3 linked regions of the Homo sapiens genome follow. Each later gene encodes a partner of the first gene's protein in a complex. Each region holds a gene or a part of one and is shown in the gene's direction. Other genes may lie near its edges.

Region 1 (8,349 bases):
CTGTAATCCCAGCTACTCGTGAGGCTGAAGCCTGAGAATCGCTTGAACCAGGAGGTGGAGGTTGCAGTGAGCCGAGATCACACCACTGCACTCCAGCCTGGGCAACAGAGTGAGACTCCAAGTATGAATGAACAAAGAACATGGACCCTTAACCAAGTAACCGGGAAGAGGGGGGATTTTCAGGGCCTTCTTGTTTTTCAACTAATAAAATAACAGCTGTTAGTCAGGACTGCTCCTTACCTAGCATTCAGCAGCGTGAGCCCTGGGCCACATCATGGGTCAGAGCCCTGGGAAGTGGAGATGCTGACACCCGCTCTGTCCCTAAATACCATAGGATGGTGACTTTTCTCTTCCTTCCTGGACCTCAGTTATGAGTGAGTGTCAAGAGTTTGCTGAATTCAGAGGTAGATGGGGGAGATAACAGGAACCAAAAAATAAGGATTGTAAACTTGGTTATTTATATCCTCTTGAGCATACTTGCAGGTTTTGGTCTATCAAAGTCTAAGTATTTTATAGGTCTGTGAACTCTTAGCTTCAGTTTTAGCAGGGAAAGAGCCAAAGCATGCTGTCCATGTTGAACAGCTGTGGCATGCTGCGCTTGGGCCACTCCTCTGAGAGGGAGACAGAGAGGGACGCGGCCTCTCCTGAAAGACAGCGTTGAGGATGGTTGGAGGCTACCTCTGGCTTCCTTTCACCTCTTGAGGCAACTTGAATGTGTTTTCAACAGACAGGAAAAAGAAATATAAAAACTTATTGTTAAAACCAGTGTGCCCAAACTTCTTTTGGAGTCTGAGGTTCAGAAATGGCCTCCAGACCTTGGGTTGGAGGTCTTGGCTCCTGAATGTGACTCATTTCCATGAGCCTGGAGAGGCTGCTAGGGACCACCAGGTGCCATCTTTATGGTTGTTTAATGTTTAATATGTTTTTATCATTTTGTTATGATTTTTTCACTTTCTCTGGATTGTTTTTGTCTGGTATTTTACAGGGGCTGGGATTGACGGCCTTGGTTTAGATTTCAACTCTCTAAGCCAGCATTCCTTAAACCTTTTGGTCTCAGACATCCTTACAAATAGAACTCCAAAGAGGTTTTGTTTATGTGGGTTATGTCTATTGATGTTTGCTATATGAGAAATTAAAACTAAGACATTTTAAAAATATTCACTTAATAATACAAACCTATTATATGTTAACATAACTAAGGGATAAAGACAAAAGCAAAAATCAGTCCCAGTGCCAGGGATAAATGTTAAGATTTTGATGTATTTGCCTTGTCTGTTCACTGTGTGTGTGCCTACTGGAATCACACCTCATACACTGTCGTCTTTTTCACCTATCAGTAAGTACATTATATCATTTAAGATATTTCAGCCAGGCATGGTAGCTCACTCCTGTAATCCTAGCACTGTGGGAGGCCGAGGCGGGTGGACAATGAGGTCAGGAGTTCAAGACTAGCCTGGCCAAGGTGGTGAAACCCCATCTCCACTAAAAAAAATTAGCTGGGCGTGGTGTCACGCACCTGTAATCCCAGCTACTTGGAGGCTGTGGCAGAGAATTGCTTGAACCGGGAGGCAGAGGTTGCAGTAAGCCAAGATCATGCCACCGCACTCCTACGTGGATGACAGAGCGAGACTCTGTCTCAAAAAATATATATTTCAGCTGGGCATGGTGGCTCATGCCTGTAAACCCCAGCACTTCAGGAGGCTGAGGCGGGGGTGAATCACTTAAGGTCACGAGTTCAAGACCAGCCTGGCCAACATGATGAAACCTTGTCTCTAATAAAAAAACAAAAATTAGCCACAGGCGTGGTGGCAGGCGCCTGTAATCGCAGCTACTCGGGAGGCTGAGGTTGCAGTGAGCCAAAATCGCGCCACTGCACTCCAGCTTGGGCAACATAGCGAGACTCCGTCTCAAGAAAAAAAAAAAAGATATTTCAAAAGCTTCAGCTTTAATGGTTGCATAATGGTCTGTCATAATTTAACAGTTCCTTTTTTCATAGATTTTTTTTTTTTTTTTTTGAGACGGAGTCTCGCTCTGTCACCCAAGCTGGAGTGCATTGGCGCGATCTTGGCTCACTGCAAGCTCCGCCTCCCAGCTTCATGCCATTCTCCTGCCTCAGCCTCCCTAGTAGCTGGGACCACAGGCACCCGCCACCATGCCCAGCTAATTTTTTTGTATTTTTAGTAGAGACGGGGTTTCATCGTGTTAGCCAGGATGGTCTCAATCTCCTGACCTTGTGATCCACCCGCCTTGGCCTCCCAGAGTGCTGGGATTACAGGCGTGAGCCACTGCGCCTGGCCCCTTTTTTCACAGATTTTCATTTCTGGTTTTTCTGTGTTATAAATAACACTTTTAGGAGCATCCTTTTACATAAATCTTTGTCCATATATGTTTATTTCCATAAGAAAATTTTCTGAAGTTAGAATTTCTGGGTCAAAGATTATGAACATCCCTTTCTGGCTCGAGGCTATATATTGCCAGCTTGTCCTCTAGAATGAGTGTGACAGTTTATACTCCCACAGCAGAGCTGGAGACAGCTCTTACTTCTGCCTCCTTGCTAATATTGAATGTTGTCCTTTTTTAGTTATTTTCCAATTTTATTCAAGTCTTTTCCAGTTATATAAGTATACACTGTTATCTAATTTTAAATTGTATGTCTTTTTTTTTCTTTTTTTGAGACGGAGTCTCGCTGTGTTGCCCAGGCTGAAGTGCAGTGGTGAGATCTCTGCTCACTGCAAGCTCCACCTCCTGAGTTCACGCCATTCTCCTGCCTCAGCCTCCCGAGTATCTGGGACTACAGGCACCTGCCACCACACCTGGATAATTTATTGTATTTTTAGTAGAGACAGGGTTTCACTGTGTTAGCCAGGATGGTCTTGATCTCCTGACCTTGTGATCTACCCACCTCGGCCTCCCAAGTCCTGGGATTACAGGCGTGAACCACCGTGCCCGGCCCTATGTCTTTTTTTGAGACGGAGTCTTGCCGTGTTGCCCAGGCTGGAGTGTAGTGGCACAGTCTTGGCTCACTGCAACCTCTGCCTCCCGGGTGCATGCAGTTCTCCTCCCTAGGCTCTCGAGTAGCTGGGATTATAGGCACATGCCACCAATCCTAGCTAATTTTTGTATTTTTGGTAGAGATGGGGTTTCACCATATTGGCCAGGCTGGTCTCAAACTCCAGTCTGCCCACCGTGGCCTCCCAAAGTGCTGGAATTACAGGCGTGAGCCACCGCACCCAGCCAAACTGTACGTCTTTGATCATTAATGGAGGTAACTGTCTCAATCCAACTTGCTACAGTAATTGCCTTTAAAATGGACATTATGGCCAGGCACATTGGCTCAGGCCTGTAATCCCAGCCCTTGGGAGGCCAAGGCAGGAGGATCACTTGATGCCAGGAGTTCAAGACCAGCCTGGGCAACACAGCAAGACCCCCGTATCTACAAAAAAATAATAAATTAGCCAGGCGTGGTGGTTCATGCCTGTAGTCCCAGCTACTGGGGAGGCTGAGGAGGGAACATCACTTGAGCCCAGGAGGTTGAGGTTGCAATGAGCTATGATCACACCACCACACTCCAGCCTGGGCAGCAGAGTGAGGCCCCATCTCAAAAAAAAAAAGACTCCTTCAGAGTCGTCTTGGAAATAGTGCATGGCTGCCCAGGGAGAGCGCAGAACGCCATCCCCAAAGCTCCCACCCCAGCCTTGTGCAGGGAGGAGGGGCCTGTGTGGAGGAGGCCTCAGGTGAAGAACGGGATCTGGCGCACACCCTGCTCCTCGGCAAGGGCCGCTTCACGCTCGCCATAGGCCGTTTTCTTATTTCATGAAACAGGCCTCACGTACCACTTGCCAATCTGCTTAAGTATCCTAAGCTGCTTCCTCTGCCCGTTTGGTATTGATCTTCATGTTTACATAATGGCCTCTTGCATGTTTTTGTTTTTAAATAAAGGTGGCTTGGCTAGGTAGGGGTCTACATGTCTTAAAAACCATGCAGCTAAACCCAGCAACAGAGCACCTAATAAGGTCAGGCTGCACGGCAGGGCACCCATCAGGTGCAGGTGGTCGGAAAGATACCACCCCCCAGGTAAAGCCGTGGCTCCCACCATCAGGAGAAGTCAGACTTTCAGGAAGAGAGAGCTCCCTCAACCGCCATGCTGCTGTCCCCGTCCTTCCTGCCACTGGTCACCTGGAGAGGGGATGAGGGTGAAGTAAAGGCCAGAATGAATGAAAGGCTGCACTTGGTGTGTCACCTGGGCGACAGAGCAAGACTCCATCTCAAAAAAAAAAAAATTGTTTACCTTTAAAGTTATTTCATCTTTTTAGACTGCAGTGATGTAAATACAGATTAAAGGAAGAGTAATGGTCATCATTAAAGGCCCCCAGCCTGAACTGCGCCCTTTGCTTTCAGCTCGCAGATTCACTGGTGCCCATGGAGATCAAGCCTGGCATCTCCTTGGCAACTGTCTCGGCCGTGCTGCACACCAAAGATAACAAGCACTTGCTTCAGGTAGGGGGTGCTGGGTGGGAGTGCAGGGGACCCTCTCCCCAGCAAGAAACCAGACCACCTAACAGATTATATTTGAAATAGCGCTTCATGTGAATTCTTGTTGAAGAATTATTTCCCTGGCCATGTGCCTCAGAGAGGCTGCTGTGCCCAGAGATGAGGCCGCACGTCATCCCAAGGGCTGCCACAGGCACATTCTGTTGGGGAGCGCTGCCACGCGAGGCAGGGCTGTGGGGAGACGTGCAGGGTGGCAGGTGCAGCCCTGCCCTTGGGGGCTGGAACCGGAGGGCACCTGCGTGAGGCTGTGGCTACCTGAGAGCCTGGTCCTACCAATGACCCACACACAGGTGGGTGGCACTTCAGCTCCAGGGCAGGCACTGTGTCTTAAGAATTCCTTTCAGATCTGGACTGTGTCACCTTTATGCCACATGTAGAGTTGCTCCTAGCTACCACTTAAAGTCTATTAGACCCTGTGCTGGGTCCTTGACCCGCCTTGTCTTACTGAGCCGTCAGAATTCACTGCTGTCATCATTTCGTAGGCAGCTTCTCTAACCTTGGCCAGATGGTGGCAAAGGTGGGGTTTCCCCCTTTGGTCTGACCCCACAGCCAGTGTGCCCAGCCACGGGGTCATGATGTACCTGCAGCACGACACAGTGTATTCTGGAGAATTTACTCAGCAGATACTGAAGTGAACCACCTGAAAATTTAAAAATGGATCTTGATAGAAGGCAGAGATCTTAGCGAATAAGGTGTTGGTAGGCTGGACAGTTGAGCATTAGAGCGCGTGGATCTGGGGCTCCCGGCAGCCAGGGAACCTGAACCGAGTGCCGGCTGAGGAAACCGGGCCGGGGCTCTGTGGCCTGTGAGGACAGGATAGTCTCAGGCTCTCAGTGTGGCCTGCGGTGGCCCCTGCTGCTCAGAGGAAGCTCATGAAAGCCACTCTTTCCTTCTGCTCTAGCCCCCTCCTCGGCCCGCCCAGCCCACGAGCGGGAAGAAGAGAAAGCGGGTGAGCGATGACGTACCAGACTGCAAAGTCCTGAAGCCTTTGTTGAGCGGTTCCATCCCTGTGGAGCAGTTCGTGCAGACCCTGGAGAAGGTGAGCTGGTTTCGCTGGTGCCGTGAAAACTCCACACGTGGCAGCCTTTCCCTGGCTCACTATGGCCCCCTGGCTGCAGGGAGTGGATGTTGCTGCTTGTCACTTAGTCCCCACTGTCCTGTGGCATCTGTTTGGTCTAAGGTCCTGCTGGGAGACCCAGGAGAAAGAAAGCAGAGTGAGGAGTGCCCCATCCTTCCTCCCAGCACGAGGTCACCAGAAGGCCTCTCCAGACTGAAGAAAAAGCTGCTTCCACACACACATGTGACGAGTGGGGCAGGGTAGTGAGGCCAGGACAAAGAGGGACCCGGCCCTGCCAGAGTCTTGCACTTCCACAGATGACTCCTTGCTGTCAGAGGGGAGCCAAGTCTCCAGTCGACTGTCAGGATTTGCAGGAGGCAGTCGGGGGAGGGGACACTGGCCCTTCCCCTCTGTCTCAGCAGCCCTGATGGCTGCTTCTCCCAGAGATGAGATTTCTTGACTATGATTAAAAGAAAAAAATCTAACCTTAAAGGTTGTAATTTTGGCTTCAGTCACAGGACTTCAGAGATGACTTTATTAGGATTATAGAATCTTTGATAGGAAGAAGGAATTGGCTAAAGGTAATACTGTTCATGCTGCTGCTTGCAAGAACTGCAACAAATTACAATCATTACAAGGAAGGAGATTTCTATGAACTTTCTATCCAATGTAAATATCACAGTTGCCGACTTTCAAATCTTAAAGGCTTTCCCTTTCCTAGGATTGGTTTTCTCCACCTGTCTTTGATTTTCCCGTAGGGAAAAAGGCTCTGGCTGGGTGGTTGCGGCTCTCTTCCACCCTCCCTGAAGACCTTGCAGGGCTCCTGGGCCCTGTTAATGGGCCTCAAGCTGGACTTTTAAAAACTTAAGATGAGGACCTTCTGCCTGGCCCAGCCTATGTCCTGACCCAGTGTTCCACCCCGGCTCCTCTCTGCAGAAGGAGCAAGCACCTGTCCAAGTCCCTAGGGGAGCCTGCAGCCATGAAGTACAGGTGGCCTCCCCACACCGAGGCCCTTCACCTGCTGTGTGTCTGTTTCAGGCACATGCCTCCTTTCCATGTCACGTCTGATTTGTAAGGAATTTCTGTCCTTAGCATTAGCAATAGCTGAGAAGTTTGCACTGCTGCCTTCTCTCCTTCACTCTTGAGAGGGCTCTGCCAAGTCCCACAGGGGTATCTTGGTGTCACCTGGCATTTTCCTGGGAGCTCAGACAGCTGAAACTTAGGAGGGAGCTGTCACCAGGGAACGGCATGGTGCAAGCAGCTGAGCGTCCCAGACTCCTGAACACAGTGCTTGGACGTGCCCTCAAAGAACTCACAAAAGCTTAGCCAGGTTGTGGAAATTCTGTTGTTTTGCATGAGCTTTTGCATGTTTAGGGTCTCTTTTCAAGTATAAGAAACTATCACTATCATAGGCCTATGACTAGTCTGAAGAATTGTGTTGAGACGTGTCAGTTTCTAGAAAGTTCAGTCGAGTCTGTGAAGTGTCATTTACAGATCTCACAGATGTGCAGTCTGCCCAGCCCACCTCTTTCTTTTCTTCTGGAGCAGCATGGCTTCAGTGATATTAAGGTGGAGGACACAGCCAAGGGCCATATCGTCCTGCTCCAGGAGGCTGAGACGCTCATCCAGATTGAAGAAGACTCGACCCATATCATCTGCGACAATGACGAGATGCTCAGAGTGCGACTGCGGGACCTTGTCCTCAAATTCTTACAGAAGTTCTGAGTGGGCCATCTGAGCTACTTCCCTGAAATCCTGCAGTCCCTCACTGGCTGCCCTCACAAGCCACCTGAGGAGTGGCATGAGAGGCCATTAACTGTGTCTTTGTGGTGTCCTCTGGCTTAAGGAGTGAAGAGGTGGCTCTTGAGGGAAATGGTCTGGACTTATTCCCAGCACTGTTTCAGGCAAGAACTTTCCCTTTCAACTTCAGGCTCATTTTCTTCTCAACTCTGGCTCTCTCAAGGAGCTGGAGGGTGGCAGAAGTGGGACAGGAGAAGTTTTCCAAGAGGTTCATGGGAGGCGGAGGTGACTGGCTGGCTGTCTTGCATCAGTCCCAGGCCTCGGCCAGGGGAGCCAGCCTTTGGTTTCGTTTACTTGCCTACAGTGCTGTACGCAATAAGATGATGATCCCAAAATATGGTAAAGTGAACCCATCTGTCTGCATTTTCTACTCTGAGCCCATTTGTTAATAAACACTTATTTTTATATAATTAGCTGTCCTCTGTTGAACCTACCATCTATATATTGATTTAGTAGCTGAAAAAATATGAAAATATACAGAACAGCATGAACTTAGAAAACACCACAGGAAATTGAATTTTGATGTGTATGTTAAATCATATAATTTGCACTGTTTATAAAAACACAGATCTGTTTCTCCTTACATTGCATAAGAAGGTGCTCACCTTTAAGCTGTGGCTGCACGGAGAGTGATGCAGGTCGGTACACCAGCCTCAGGCTCCACCTGCACCGCCTCTCCCACAGATCCTCAGTCTCTGCATTAAACCGGGCGTTACTCACAGATACCCTCAGAGCCACTGGTCGTAGGAAGCTTTCAGACAAAAGTAACCTCACAAAAGATGACTGCTTTTGAAATGTATAAAACCAACAGTTACCAGGTGAAATAGCACGAGCTGTGACACCCAGGCCAACTTTGCGAGTATTAAGAACAAGTCTTAGCCCTGGCAGGCGATGCTAGATAGTATGCCCAGCGCAGGCTATTCTTAACCATCTTGTTGGAG
Region 2 (8,349 bases), on another chromosome or scaffold:
CCTCTGGTTACTGAGTTTTGTGCCAGACAGGACCCAGGGGACTTGTGGGCTGTGGCCTTGCCCTCAGGGAGGGACCAGGCTGCTGCAGTGCAAGCCTGTGAGTGAGTCCCCGACGGCCCTGGAAGGGAGGAGGCCTGGCAGGGAGTTGCAGTATGGGCTTGGGCCTGGAAGCACAGGCGATGAAACCGGGGCAGGCAGGAAAGGGAGATGCCAAGCAGAGAATGGACTGTGCCCAGGGAATGGAGGCCTGGCCTGGCCTGGGCAGCACACGCTCATGAGAGCTGAGGCTGGGCGCTGTGGGCAGTGTTTGTGCTGGACTCAGTTGGCATCAGGGAGCCCTGGGGGCAAACGGCCCAGGATGGCACAGCTGGGGGACTGCTTTAGGAGGTCGAGCCTCAGACCTCCCATGAGGCGTGTCCCTGGGCAGCTGGTGCCGGTGGGGATTGAAGACAGAGACCACAGGCCTCATCCTGGCCCGGGCTCTCGGCCGCCGGCGGCTCGGTGCTTTATTTATCTTTAGCACTACCTCCTGTAGAAAGGAGGTTTTGAAGATGAGAGGAGACGTGGTTATGAAAAGCGTATTCTGAGTGGTAGATCACTTTATAGTATTATTCTCAGCAAAACAGAGAGATGGCTGCATCCAGCCATTTGTGGTAAATGTCCCAGGCTGTCCCTCCATGCTGGCAGCCCACTTGTCCCCCAGCTTGTCTCGGCATCAGGAAATTTATTCCAAGTCTCTGTCCCGGGCGCAGTTAAGGTAGATCACAATGCCTCTGTCCACATGTGTGTGGATATGTATTTACTTATTATTTATTATTTATTTATTTATTTATTTTTTTTTGAGACAGAGTCTCGCTGTGTTCCCCAGGCTGGAATGCAGTGGCACGATCTCGGCTCACTTCAGCCTCCGCCTCCCGGGTTCACATGATTCTCCTGCCTTAGCCTCCCAAGCAGCTGGGATTACAGGCATGCACCACCACGCCTGGCTAATTTGTGTATTTCTAGTAGAGACAGGGTTTCACTGTATTGGCCAGGCTGGTCTCGATTTCCTGACCTCAGGTGATCCACCTGCCTCAGCCTCCCAAAGTGGTGGGATTACAGGTGCTAGCCACTGCACCTGGCCGTTTGTGGATATTTAAAAACACAGTCCTAAAAAACTGTTGGGACAGAGAAGAATCAGAATGAAAATGAGAAAACCTCCGATCCAACAGTGGCAAACACGACGATAGGAAAGGTGTGTGCTGGCCCTGGTGCTCCTCAGAGGATGTGGGAGGGTCAGGCACTCGTCTGGAGGAAGGTTGTGAGCCGAGCACCCATGGAAAGAGGGAGGAAAAGTGGGAAGAAGGGCATGCTGGAGACTGGAGCTGGGGTGGGTGCGGAGAGAGGGCCACTGTGCTGCGGTCCACAGTGAGAAAGAAGCCGCCAGACGGAGCCACGATTCAGTGGAAAGTAAAGCTGCAGGTGGCCTGGCTTGCTGGGAAATGTCTGTAGCCTTTGGGGTAGTCGTGTGGGACACAGCGGAGCCAGGACTGGAGTGGCTGGTGGGCTAGTGCTGAGGCCTGTGGGGCAGCCTGTTGTATTAAGGGGACCATCTGGTGGGGTGCTTGTCCGCTGTGGGAACTTTGCTGAGGGTGGATCGCTGGTCCCTGGCAGGGCCGACCCTGAGAGCTCTGGGTTCCTCGTGGTCTTCCCGGTGTCCCGAGGCTTTGGGGTGACCCTGCCCTGGCCCCGTTCTGACCGTACCGCCTGCCCCGGCCAGTGCTGCCCACGGTGCTGCTGGATGAGATCGAGGCGGCCGAGCTGGAGGGCAACGATGACAGGATCGAGGGCGTGCTGTGCGGGGCCGTGAAGCAGCTGAAGGTCACCCGCGCCAAGCCTGACAGCACCCTCTACCTGAGCCTCATGTACCTGGCCAAGATCAAGCCCAACATCTTCGCCACTGAGGGCGTCATTGAGGTTTGAGCCGGGCCCCTGGCAGGAGGCGAGCAGCGCTGGGGCCCTTGGCTCCCCTCCTCACCTCCCCCTTAAGTGTCCCTCCCGGCCCACCCCAGCTTTGCCTCTGGGGCCAGCGAAGCTCCCACGTGACATGCGCCCTCCCTGGCAGGCTCTGTGTAGCCTCCTGCGGCGGGACGCCTCCATCAACTTCAAGGCCAAGGGGAACAGCCTGGTGTCTGTGCTGGCCTGTAACCTCCTCATGGCCGCCTACGAGGAGGACGAGAACTGGCCCGAGATCTTTGTCAAGGTGAGCGTCCTCTCCCGGGACGGTGAAGATGGCAGAGCGCCACGGGGTGGGGCAGGGGCGAGAGAAAAGCAGAAGTGTGTTCTCTCCAGAGGGCTGTGTCTGACAGCCCTGGTGGTGATGGCACGGTCCCTGCTGCACCCAGAAGCTGGAGAGGGCCGCCTGGGCACCCAGTCCCCGGGCAGCAGGCGGGTGTTCCCCAACCTGGCTGCTGCCCGGCTGGGCTCGGGGCTGAGGGTGTGGCTGCCACACAGGTGTACATCGAGGACTCCCTGGGGGAGCGGATCTGGGTGGACAGCCCTCACTGTAAGACGTTTGTGGACAACATCCAGACGGCCTTCAACACCAGAATGCCCCCCAGGAGCGTGCTGCTGCAGGGGGAGGCGGGCCGCGTTGCGGGCGACCTGGGTGCAGGTGAGACACACGGCCAGCCAGAGAGGGCGGGTGTCCAAGCCCCAGGGCAGGGGAGGGGTGGGAGGATGGGCGGGTGGGAGGCGCTGCATGGAGCCCTCTCCTTGGTTTGCAGGGAGCAGCCCACACCCCTCCCTCACGGAGGAGGAGGACAGCCAGACGGAGTTGCTGATCGCGGAGGAGAAGCTGAGCCCCGAGCAGGAGGGCCAGCTCATGCCCAGGTAGCTGCGTGCCTGCCCGGTCCCAGTTGGGGGCGGCGGGGGCGGGCGCCTCGGGGCCACCTTCCTCCCTCCTCGCTCCCTCCTCTGGCCTAGGTACGAAGAGCTCGCGGAGAGCGTGGAGGAGTATGTCCTGGACATGCTGCGGGACCAGCTGAACCGGCGCCAGCCCATCGACAACGTCTCCAGGAACCTCCTGCGGCTCCTCACCTCCACCTGCGGCTATAAGGAGGTGCGGCTGCTGGCGGTGCAGAAGCTGGAGATGTGGCTGCAGAACCCCAAGGTGCGGGGGCGCCCCGGGGGGGTGGGCGGGGCAGGGGGTGGGGGCAGGCTCTGTGTGGCCCCACAGCGTGGTCTTCCTGCCGGGGTGGCCGTGAGCCCACTGCTCCCTCCTCGGCCCCGCAGCTGACCCGGCCGGCCCAGGACCTGCTGATGTCCGTCTGCATGAACTGCAACACGCACGGTTCCGAAGACATGGACGTCATCTCACACCTGATCAAGATCCGCCTCAAGCCCAAGGTCCTCCTCAACCACTTCATGCTGTGCATCAGGTGCGTGGCGAGCCGGGGCAGAGCGGGGGTGCGGGTGGAGTGGGGGTGTGGGTGGGGGTGTGGGCGGAGCGGGGGTGCGGGCGGAGTGGGGGCACAGGCGGAGTGGGGGCACAGGCGTAGCGGGGACAGGGTCTGTACCCTCACCTCACCCAGGGAGCTGCTGAGCGCGCACAAGGACAACCTGGGCACCACCATCAAGTTGGTGATCTTCAATGAGCTCTCCAGCGCCCGGAACCCGAACAACATGCAGGTCCTCTATACCGCACTGCAGCACAGCTCAGAGCTGGCGCCCAAGGTAGGCCCAGGGTCCCTGGCCTTGCCCTCCACGCCGGAATATGGGGCTCTGGGCTGGAGGGGCACGTGGCGTCTGGGGAGGCCGGTGGATTGGCAGTGCTTCGTGGGAGAATGCTCCTCGGTCTCGGGAAGGAGCTTTTGAAACTCACGTGGGCATGAGGTTGAGCCGTTTCTAGAGTGGGTGCAGCCACAGCGCCCAGCGTCTTTCTCAGAAACTGACACTCTGTCCATTTAGGAGGGAGCCACATTGAGTCTTAAAAGCCACCCAGGTTTCTGAGCTAAGACCCAGACCTGTTGCCTTCTGTTTTTATTTTTCAAGCTCATTCCTGCCTTTGGATAGTAAGGTAGTTTTTAAAAATTTTGTGGAGACCGGGTCTTATTATGTGGCCCAGGCTGGTCTCAAACTCCTGGGCTCAAGCGATCCTCCTGCCTCAACCTCCCAAAGTGCTGGGATGACAGGCATGAGCCCCTGTGCCTGGCCCAGACCCGCCTCCTGTGCATTGGGTCCCTCGGTTAAGCAGGGGTCCCTGTAGCCCTGGCTGTAGGACCCTTGGATTTCCGTGTCTCCTTTGAAGCGGGCTCGGGAGATGCTCCCATCGCCACCAGCGCATTAGGCCTCCCGGTGGGCTCTATGGAGTGTGAAACACGAGGGAGGCACAGCCGCTCTCAGCTCCGCGTTCAGTCTTCGCGGCCTGGCATTTTGAGACAGGAGTGCGTCCTTTCAGATCCTTTCAGATCTTGGGTGGTGGCCTTTGGTTTCCGTTCAGCCCGTGGCGCACGGGTGGGCTGAGATGGCACACGCGCTTCTATGGCTTTGCCGCCTGGTGTCCCGCACCCCCAGCTTCCGTTAATTAATCCTCCTCATTTCACGAGGACCGACTCCCCACCTGCCGGTTCTCAGAGAGGGGAATCAGATGTGATCCCTGCTCGCCAAGGGCTGGCAGCCAGTAGAGCAAGGAGCCCGCCACCCCGCACCCCACACTGTCTGAGACCCACTGCAGCGCCCTCGGGCGCCATACCTGTTGGTGCTGCGGGAAGGGGCCTGTGACAGGGACAGCACTGTCGGGCAGCCTCCCACGCGGCCTCTCTCTGCCCCAGTTCCTGGCCATGGTGTTCCAGGACCTGCTGACCAACAAGGACGACTACCTGCGGGCCTCGCGGGCCCTGCTGCGGGAGATCATCAAGCAGACCAAGCACGAGATCAACTTCCAGGCCTTCTGCCTGGGGCTCATGCAGGAGCGCAAGGAGCCGCAGTACCTGGAGATGGAGTTCAAGGTGCCAGCCCTCGCCGCTGGGGCGCCTTTCCCTCACTGCGGGTTCCACGCGCCGCCATCCCCCTCGTCCTGGGTCCCATGCACACTCCACCCCTTCGGATGCTCTGGCTGAGCGTGGGTACGGGGATGAGTGAGGCTGTTTGCGGTGACGCGTCCCAGAGGGTAGCATAGGCTCTGTCCTGTGTGAGGACCTATGAGGGGCTGACCAAGCACAGGGGAACTGGCAACCCCTAGGCTGGATGGGATGAATTGCTGCCGGCAGCAAGGGGAGCACGGGAGCAGGGAGGCAGGGTGGGGCTGCGGGCTGCCTGGCTGGGTTGGAGACTTTTCGAGGGCTGTGGAGGGAGCTGGCGCTGGAAGGCACAGTGAGGGTGGATCACAGAGATGCCAGGTCCCTGCAGCCAACTCGCAGCCAGCCTGCCGGGGTGGCCTGTTTTGCGGACGGGGCTTTGTGGATCTCTGTTGACTGAACCTCCCTCCTGTGGCCAGACTAGGACCTTGTGGGCCACCGGCCCTGGTGCCCCTCCTGTCAGGCCCCTCTCCCAACTGGTCCTGGGCTCTCTCTCTGGATCCCTGCTTGTGTGTGTGTATGTGTGCGCATGTGCAAGTGTGTGCGTGCTGCACCCACGTGTTTGTGGAGTGGGGCTCCCGGGTGTCCCTTCTGGATACAGACCCCGTGCCGCGCCCACGTGGGTGTGGAGTGGGGCTCCCGGGTGTCCCTTCTGGATACAGACCCCGTGCCGCGCCCACGTGGGTGTGGAGTGGGGCTCCCGGGTGTCCCTTCTGGATACAGACCCCGTGCCGCGCCCACGTGGGTGTGGAGTGGGGCTCCCGGGTGTCCCTTCTGGATACAGACCCCGTGCTGCACCTGCAGGAGCGCTTCGTGGTGCACATCACCGACGTCCTGGCCGTGTCCATGATGCTGGGCATCACAGCGCAGGTGAAGGAGGCCGGCATCGCCTGGGACAAAGGAGAAAAGAGGAGTAAGGATGTGGGGGTGGCCTGGCCCTGCTTGGTGGGGGTCTCGGGTCCAGGCTGGTGGCTGGCGGCTCTCCGAGGCTGCACTGTCCCCTGAGCGCCCGGCAGGAGCGGTCCCGCAGCACGGCTACTCGGGGACACGGAGCCTGGAAGCTGCCGTCCCCGTTCCTGTCCATCCGGGCCTCACCCCAGCTGCAGGCTCAGACCCTGTTCCCATGAGCGTCCTTTGTGTGCTCCAGTTCTGGCCCAGCATGGGGGCATTGCAGGCGTGGTGGCCCCAGCCACGGGCGGGAGTGGGGAGGGGAGGTGGTGTTTGGGGCAGTCCGGGTGTTTGATTATGGGTTCACAGGAAGGCTGGGCCGCAGAAGCCCTCTAAGCCATTGACCGGAGCGAGTCACTCGGAACAGGAGGATTCCAGTCACCCACGCACGCGTCAGGGTCACTCCATGCCTCCCAGGGTGTTATTCCAGCTGGGAATCGTCCAGAAGCTGGGGGTGCCCTGAGTTACCCCCTCCCAAGTGCCAGCATTGAGTTGGACCCCCAGGGGTGCCTTAGCCCCTCATGGCCCATGGCTCGGATGGGCCACTAAGCTGCGTGTCTGTTTCAGACCTGGAAGTGCTCCGCTCATTCCAGAACCAGATTGCCGCCATCCAGCGGGATGCCGTCTGGTGGCTCCACACTGTGGTCCCCTCCATCAGCAAGCTCGCCCCTAAGGACTACGTGCACTGGTGCGGCTGGGGCCCTGTACAGCCCCTGTCCCACACCCCACTGAGCCGGGACAAGCCGGGGCCCCGCACAACCCCTGCCCCAAACCCCACTGAGCCAGGACAAGCCAGGCCCCGCACAGCCCCTGCCCCACACCCCACTAAGCCGGGACAAGCCAGGCCCCCACACGGGAGTCTGTCCCCTCTCTGCGGACAGCAGCAGCCGTTAGGCTCCAGGCAGGTCACCCTGTGCATTGGAGCCTCCCGTGGAGCCTCTGCCTTGGTTGGGGTGGGGCTGCCAGGCTGGGGCTGCATTTCTCTGCAGCGATTTTGTAAAGGGCTGTCCAGCCCGGCAGCCCCGTTCGGCCGCTGTGCAGCCTGGCAGCCCCGTGAGTGGTCCCTGGGTTCTTTGGTGGTGCTGTGAGGAGGTGCTGAGCTTGGGCACCAGGCAGCCCGGCCTCTGAGCGCTGGGGCCCGTGGGAGCGGGGTCCCTTCCCTGGAACTAACGGGGCTGGTCCCTGAGCACCCACATCATGACTGAGGGCTCTTCTCTGCCTGCCCAGCCTGCACAAGGTGCTGTTCACAGAGCAGCCGGAGACCTACTACAAGTGGGACAACTGGCCACCCGAGAGTGACCGCAAGTGAGTGCGCTGCCGCCTGGGGCTCCTGTGTGCCGGGCTGGGCGGGGCTGCGGGGTGCCGGGCCGGCTGCGGCAGGAAGGGCCAGTGGGAGTTGGGCGGCTGTTCCCATGGTCACAGCACCATCCTGCTCCTCCTCCACAATCCTGGGTGCCACCCTTCTCCCACTCCCATGCTGGCGTCCCAGCGCCACTGTAGGGATTCAGCTGCCGTCTGCGTCCACGTGACTCCAAGCCCCAGCCGCAGCCTCCCCCGGACCCCCGCCTTCCAGTTGCTTCCAGGGCGTCCACGGGCACGCCACCCTTCACGCAGTCTCAGATGCACCGTCTGCCCCTGCTTCTGTCCAGACAGCCGCACACTGTCCTTCCCCAGCCGGCTGGCCTCACAGCTCTGTCCCCCTTCAAGCCCCATGGGTGACCCCGTGGGTTCTTGGTCTACACTCCCCTCCAGCCCCGCCTGGGGCTCCTGCCAGTTCACCCTGCCCCCACCTCGTGCCCTGGGCGCTCTGTTCACCTTCACTGCGGCCTTCCGGTCAGGCTTTGGAGGTGTAGGGGTTATCTCTGTCTCCTGGCCCCCAGCTCCTTGAGGGCAAGAACCATCTAGAGGCCTCTGTGGGGTGGCAGAGTCTCCGTGTGGTGGTTGTAGGAACCAGTGACTGTGTGTGTATCCCCAAAGGCCTTGGGGTGGGGGTAGCCTCCCCTTCTCCCCTTGTCCAGGCGAGACTTAGAGCCAGGGCTCCTGTCCTGCAAAGGGAGGCTCAGGTTGGAGGGGATAGGCTCGTGGGAGGCAGCAGCAGCCCTCTGCCACCAGCCCGTGGGCTCTGAGGGAGAAGCTGGCCTGTCCTCGGCCCCTCAGGTCTGGCAGGTGTGGGCAGCCCACACCGAGTCATGCCTCCCCCACCCCGCAGCTTCTTCCTGCGTCTGTGCTCCGAGGTGCCCATTTTGGAGGACACGCTGATGCGCATCCTGGTCATCGGGCTGTCCCGGGAGCTCCCGCTCGGGCCTGCGGACGCCATGGAGCTTGCTGACCACCTGGTGAAGCG
Region 3 (3,912 bases), on another chromosome or scaffold:
AATTGGAATAGAAGTAAGAATAACCAGTTTATTGAAAGTAATTAGAGTTGCTATATTCTGCATATAATCACTTTTTAGTAGATTTTTAGATTAATCTGTTACTACTAAAGTTTATTTTTAGAAAATTCAACATGAAATCATTTTATGGCAAACAAATTAAAGACTGCTGTCATATTTGTTTTGATTAAGAGGTTTTGTGTTTCTTTAATAAAAAATTCACTTTTTATAAAAGTGAATAAATTTATACTATAAAAAAATTGTTCCCATTCACATATAAAAAGCAAATGTCTTTTCTAACTTGCCCATCTAGCAAATAGGCAAGAAAATATTTATAGTTAAAAACTTGAGAAATTTGTTTTCTACACTGAAATAGTAAGAAATCACTTGGTCTCCATTGTTTGTGTTATATTACTTCTATGTGTCCTGATAGTATTATAAACCATCTGTCATCCTGTTGAAAAGCAATACTAAGCAACAGCAAGCCATTAAAATGAAATGCCAGACACATAGAACATGCTTTCTTGCTTGTACTTCCTAAGTGTTGGTCTTTTAATTACTAAAGGTGGGTTTTCTTTTGTGAAGTTTTTTGAAAGATCATTTAACCATATGGCAGACAGTTTTATGTTTAATAGCAAGAAAAGGAAAAAAAATTAGGTCTTTCATAACTGAAAATTAAAGGTTTACTTCTTGACTAACTTTTTCTCTCATTGCTGGTATATATTCCTCTAGGAATAAATGGTTTATGTAGTTTTTCTTCTCTGGATAACTTCATAAGATAGTTAATATGTTACTGTAAGAAAACTTCCTATCAATTTTCAGAGTATGTGGACAAATATCTGGATTCCTTCTCTTATAAATCGAATATCTCAGAACTCTATTTTTGTTACTTTTCACATTGATTAAAAATGTATGCATGCAGACAATATTGAAGGCTACCTTGATTTCAAGAGCTAAAAATGTTTTATCAACTATTTCAGAGTAAAGTTCTAAATTATAACTGGATATATTTTAGGTATAATAACTACCATTTTTTAAGTAGGATGTTATTTTGTAAAATTTTATCTTTTACCTATATGTGAATGTAATGCTTTTGTGAATCTTCTTAAGAGTATAAAGGTAGAAAAGGTGTCAATAAGAAGTTCAATTCAAAATTAATTTGAATACGTACATTTGTGCCTAATATGAAAGTGAAAAAATATATTCTTGTGTGAACAAGAGCAATATGTATTTATATAGTGGCATTGGTACCATTGTGAGCTTCTGATTAGCCAGGAAAGTTAATCAGAGAAGTTGAAGTGTTATACCCTTATGAAATATATCAGAGAATGAGATCAGTCCTACCCAAAATGTCACTGTGCAGCCTAATGAGGCAATTGATAAAATCCTTATTAAAGGAGCAGGAGACTCTTACATGATAGTTTAACCGGAATCATGGGCAAATTGTGAAACTAAAATCATGAGAACTTTTTAACACATCATAAAAATTGTACACTTCCAAGTAATTAACTTTGCATATATTTTGTACTCCTGTAACTGTTGCTCAAAATTTAGGAGGACATTTTTTTTTAATGGGTTTAGAATCTATACAGCTGTCTTCTTTCTCTCACACAGTCACTCAGTAAATAAATATTGACTGAATCTCTTCATCTTGGATATGTTCTCCTGAATATTCTGGGTATGGGCATTTTTGCTATTAAGAGTGAATTAAATTTTTGAAATGATCCCTAGTTATTTGGAGAAAAGTCTAAAAGAATTAGATGTTTAACTAAGGTCGATAATACTTTGTTGGGTAAAAACTATGTTAAAGCACTAAATCTGGTTTTCAGATATAGCTTAGAATTGAATCTAAAAGCAATTCCCAAAAAGGAATTTCATATATTTTCTTTTGGAATCATTAGAACAAGAATATGGTATCAAAAATTTTCTGCTTTGCAAATGATAATACCCACTAGATACAGATAAGTTTTGTTCTGTGTGGTTTTTCAGATCAGCTTCATAAGAACCTAATTTGGTGGTGTGATTTAAATTTCCCAATTCATAACTTGGGATGTTTATACAGGTACTGATTAAACTTGGCTCTAATGTAATTATTTACTTTATTTTTTTAGACATCCACAGTTATTTCAGGAAATTCTTCTAGTGCCAGCGTTTCCTCGTCAGTAACTAGTGGCTTAACTGGATGGGCAGCTTTTGCAGCCAAAACTTCCTCTGCTGGTCCTTCAACAGCAAAATTGAGTTCAACAACACAAAACAATACTGGGAAACCTGCTACTTCGTCAGCTAACCAGAAACCTGTGGGTTTGACTGGTCTGGCAACATCATCCAAAGGTGGAATAGGTTCCAAAATAGGTTCCAATAACAGCACTACGCCCACTGTACCTTTAAAACCACCTCCACCTCTAACCTTGGGTAAAACTGGCCTTAGTCGCTCAGTTAGTTGTGACAATGTCAGCAAAGTAGGTCTTCCTAGTCCAAGTAGTTTAGTTCCAGGAAGCAGCAGCCAACTAAGTGGGAATGGAAATAGTGGAACATCAGGACCTAGTGGAAGTACTACCAGCAAAACTACTTCAGAATCCAGCAGCTCTCCCTCAGCATCCCTTAAAGGCCCAACTTCACAAGAATCACAGCTCAATGCTATGAAGCGATTACAGATGGTCAAGAAGAAAGCTGCCCAAAAGAAACTCAAGAAGTAATGTGGCCAAGTAGGTTTTTGTATCATATTAGCCTAAAGATGAAAGGCTTATTATTATGATATAATCTGTAATACACTGTAATTTAATAAAAGTCTTCATAATCAAATTTCTATTGTTTCTTACCTTAAAATGCTAAATATTATATAACAAAACTTGGAAACTTTCATTTTAAATCAATCTTCAACATTTTTATTCTAATGATTTCCATAGTGTGTGAAAACAATGATTAGAATGACTGGTTCTCAATGAGATCTTCAGAAGATTGAAAGCATCTGTGAATTTAAGGAAAAAGAAATAGTTCATCTTCTAGCAAAGCCCCAAGAGTTGATCCTGATGAATGAGGTGCCTTATGTGGCGGCAGGGACGACCCAACATAGTTTTCTATTTTCCTCCCCGTATTCTGGGTGTTCATTTTCTGTGCTAGCCCCATTTCAACTGACTCTCCCTCTCCCTCCCAATTATTTCATCTTTTTCAAAATTATTTTTTCATTATTGATTTCTCATATCAATGGATTTTCCTAATTGATTTATCATACTTCATATTATATCTTTACCTTTTTTATCACCTCATTTCAATTATTTAAGGGTATATCTTTTTCCAATAAATTGTGAACTCTCCTGGTGCTTAATACAATATTTTTTCTCACATTGCTCACTTTTCCTACATTGCCAATGTAATACATGCACATAGTACGTAATAAATGTTGAATTTTGATTCATCTTGGTTATGCACATTCCTGATAAGTTTTGAAGAAAAATACCATTTCACAAAGGTCTTTGCAGATGGAAATATATGACTTGTTCACACACTGATGGCTTCTTCCTATACCATGAAAGAAAAGGCTATCTTACTTAGTGCTCAAAATGTTATAGCACTTTACCTAATTTTAGCTAACTTTGTATACAATAAGCTCCTATATAATGATTAATTCTTGAGATTGTTTTGTACATTGTTAACCCATTTATGCCAGAGGTTGCAAATTTTTTTGGTGAAAAATCAGACCTGATGATGACCTTGAACAGTAGGATATAAATAACTCTATAAGCCGAGCATTGCAATAATGGAACACTAGGCATAAGTGGGTTAAGTCAGAAAATGTGGAAGGTCTGCGTTGTTGTCTTACTTGCAAGCTAACAAATTAACCAGCAATTGTTGTACATGTATATTCTGAGAGAAGATAGGAAGCCCTCTGCATCAGAGAAACAGTTTATTATTCAC

Evidence for each region. Proteins that work in one complex are often made in the same cells at the same time.
Region 2: INTS9 (region 1) and INTS1 share a complex: the UniProt entries of both Homo sapiens proteins name them as parts of the integrator complex.
Region 3: INTS9 (region 1) and INTS12 share a complex: the UniProt entries of both Homo sapiens proteins name them as parts of the integrator complex.

Annotation. Positions count from the first base shown.
Region 1 is NC_000008.11:28,767,130-28,775,478, reverse strand, and holds the end of INTS9 (integrator complex subunit 9), read left to right. Parts: intron 1-4,398; coding exon 4,399-4,497; intron 4,498-5,452; coding exon 5,453-5,590; intron 5,591-5,731; coding exon of another isoform or gene 5,732-5,872; exon of another isoform or gene 5,873-7,102; coding exon of another isoform or gene 7,103-7,156; coding exon 7,157-7,333; 3' UTR 7,334-7,818; downstream 7,819-8,349. UniProt on the Homo sapiens protein: Component of the integrator complex, a multiprotein complex that terminates RNA polymerase II (Pol II) transcription in the promoter-proximal region of genes.
Region 2 is NC_000007.14:1,493,777-1,502,125, reverse strand, and holds part of INTS1 (integrator complex subunit 1), read left to right. Parts: intron 1-1,759; coding exon 1,760-1,956; intron 1,957-2,104; coding exon 2,105-2,242; intron 2,243-2,493; coding exon 2,494-2,653; intron 2,654-2,765; coding exon 2,766-2,871; intron 2,872-2,964; coding exon 2,965-3,151; intron 3,152-3,273; coding exon 3,274-3,419; intron 3,420-3,572; coding exon 3,573-3,714; intron 3,715-4,811; coding exon 4,812-4,988; intron 4,989-5,861; coding exon 5,862-5,970; intron 5,971-6,572; coding exon 6,573-6,693; intron 6,694-7,232; coding exon 7,233-7,310; intron 7,311-8,214; coding exon 8,215-8,349. UniProt on the Homo sapiens protein: Component of the integrator complex, a multiprotein complex that terminates RNA polymerase II (Pol II) transcription in the promoter-proximal region of genes.
Region 3 is NC_000004.12:105,681,514-105,685,425, reverse strand, and holds the end of INTS12 (integrator complex subunit 12), read left to right. Parts: intron 1-2,108; coding exon 2,109-2,693; 3' UTR 2,694-2,799; downstream 2,800-3,912. UniProt on the Homo sapiens protein: Component of the integrator complex, a multiprotein complex that terminates RNA polymerase II (Pol II) transcription in the promoter-proximal region of genes.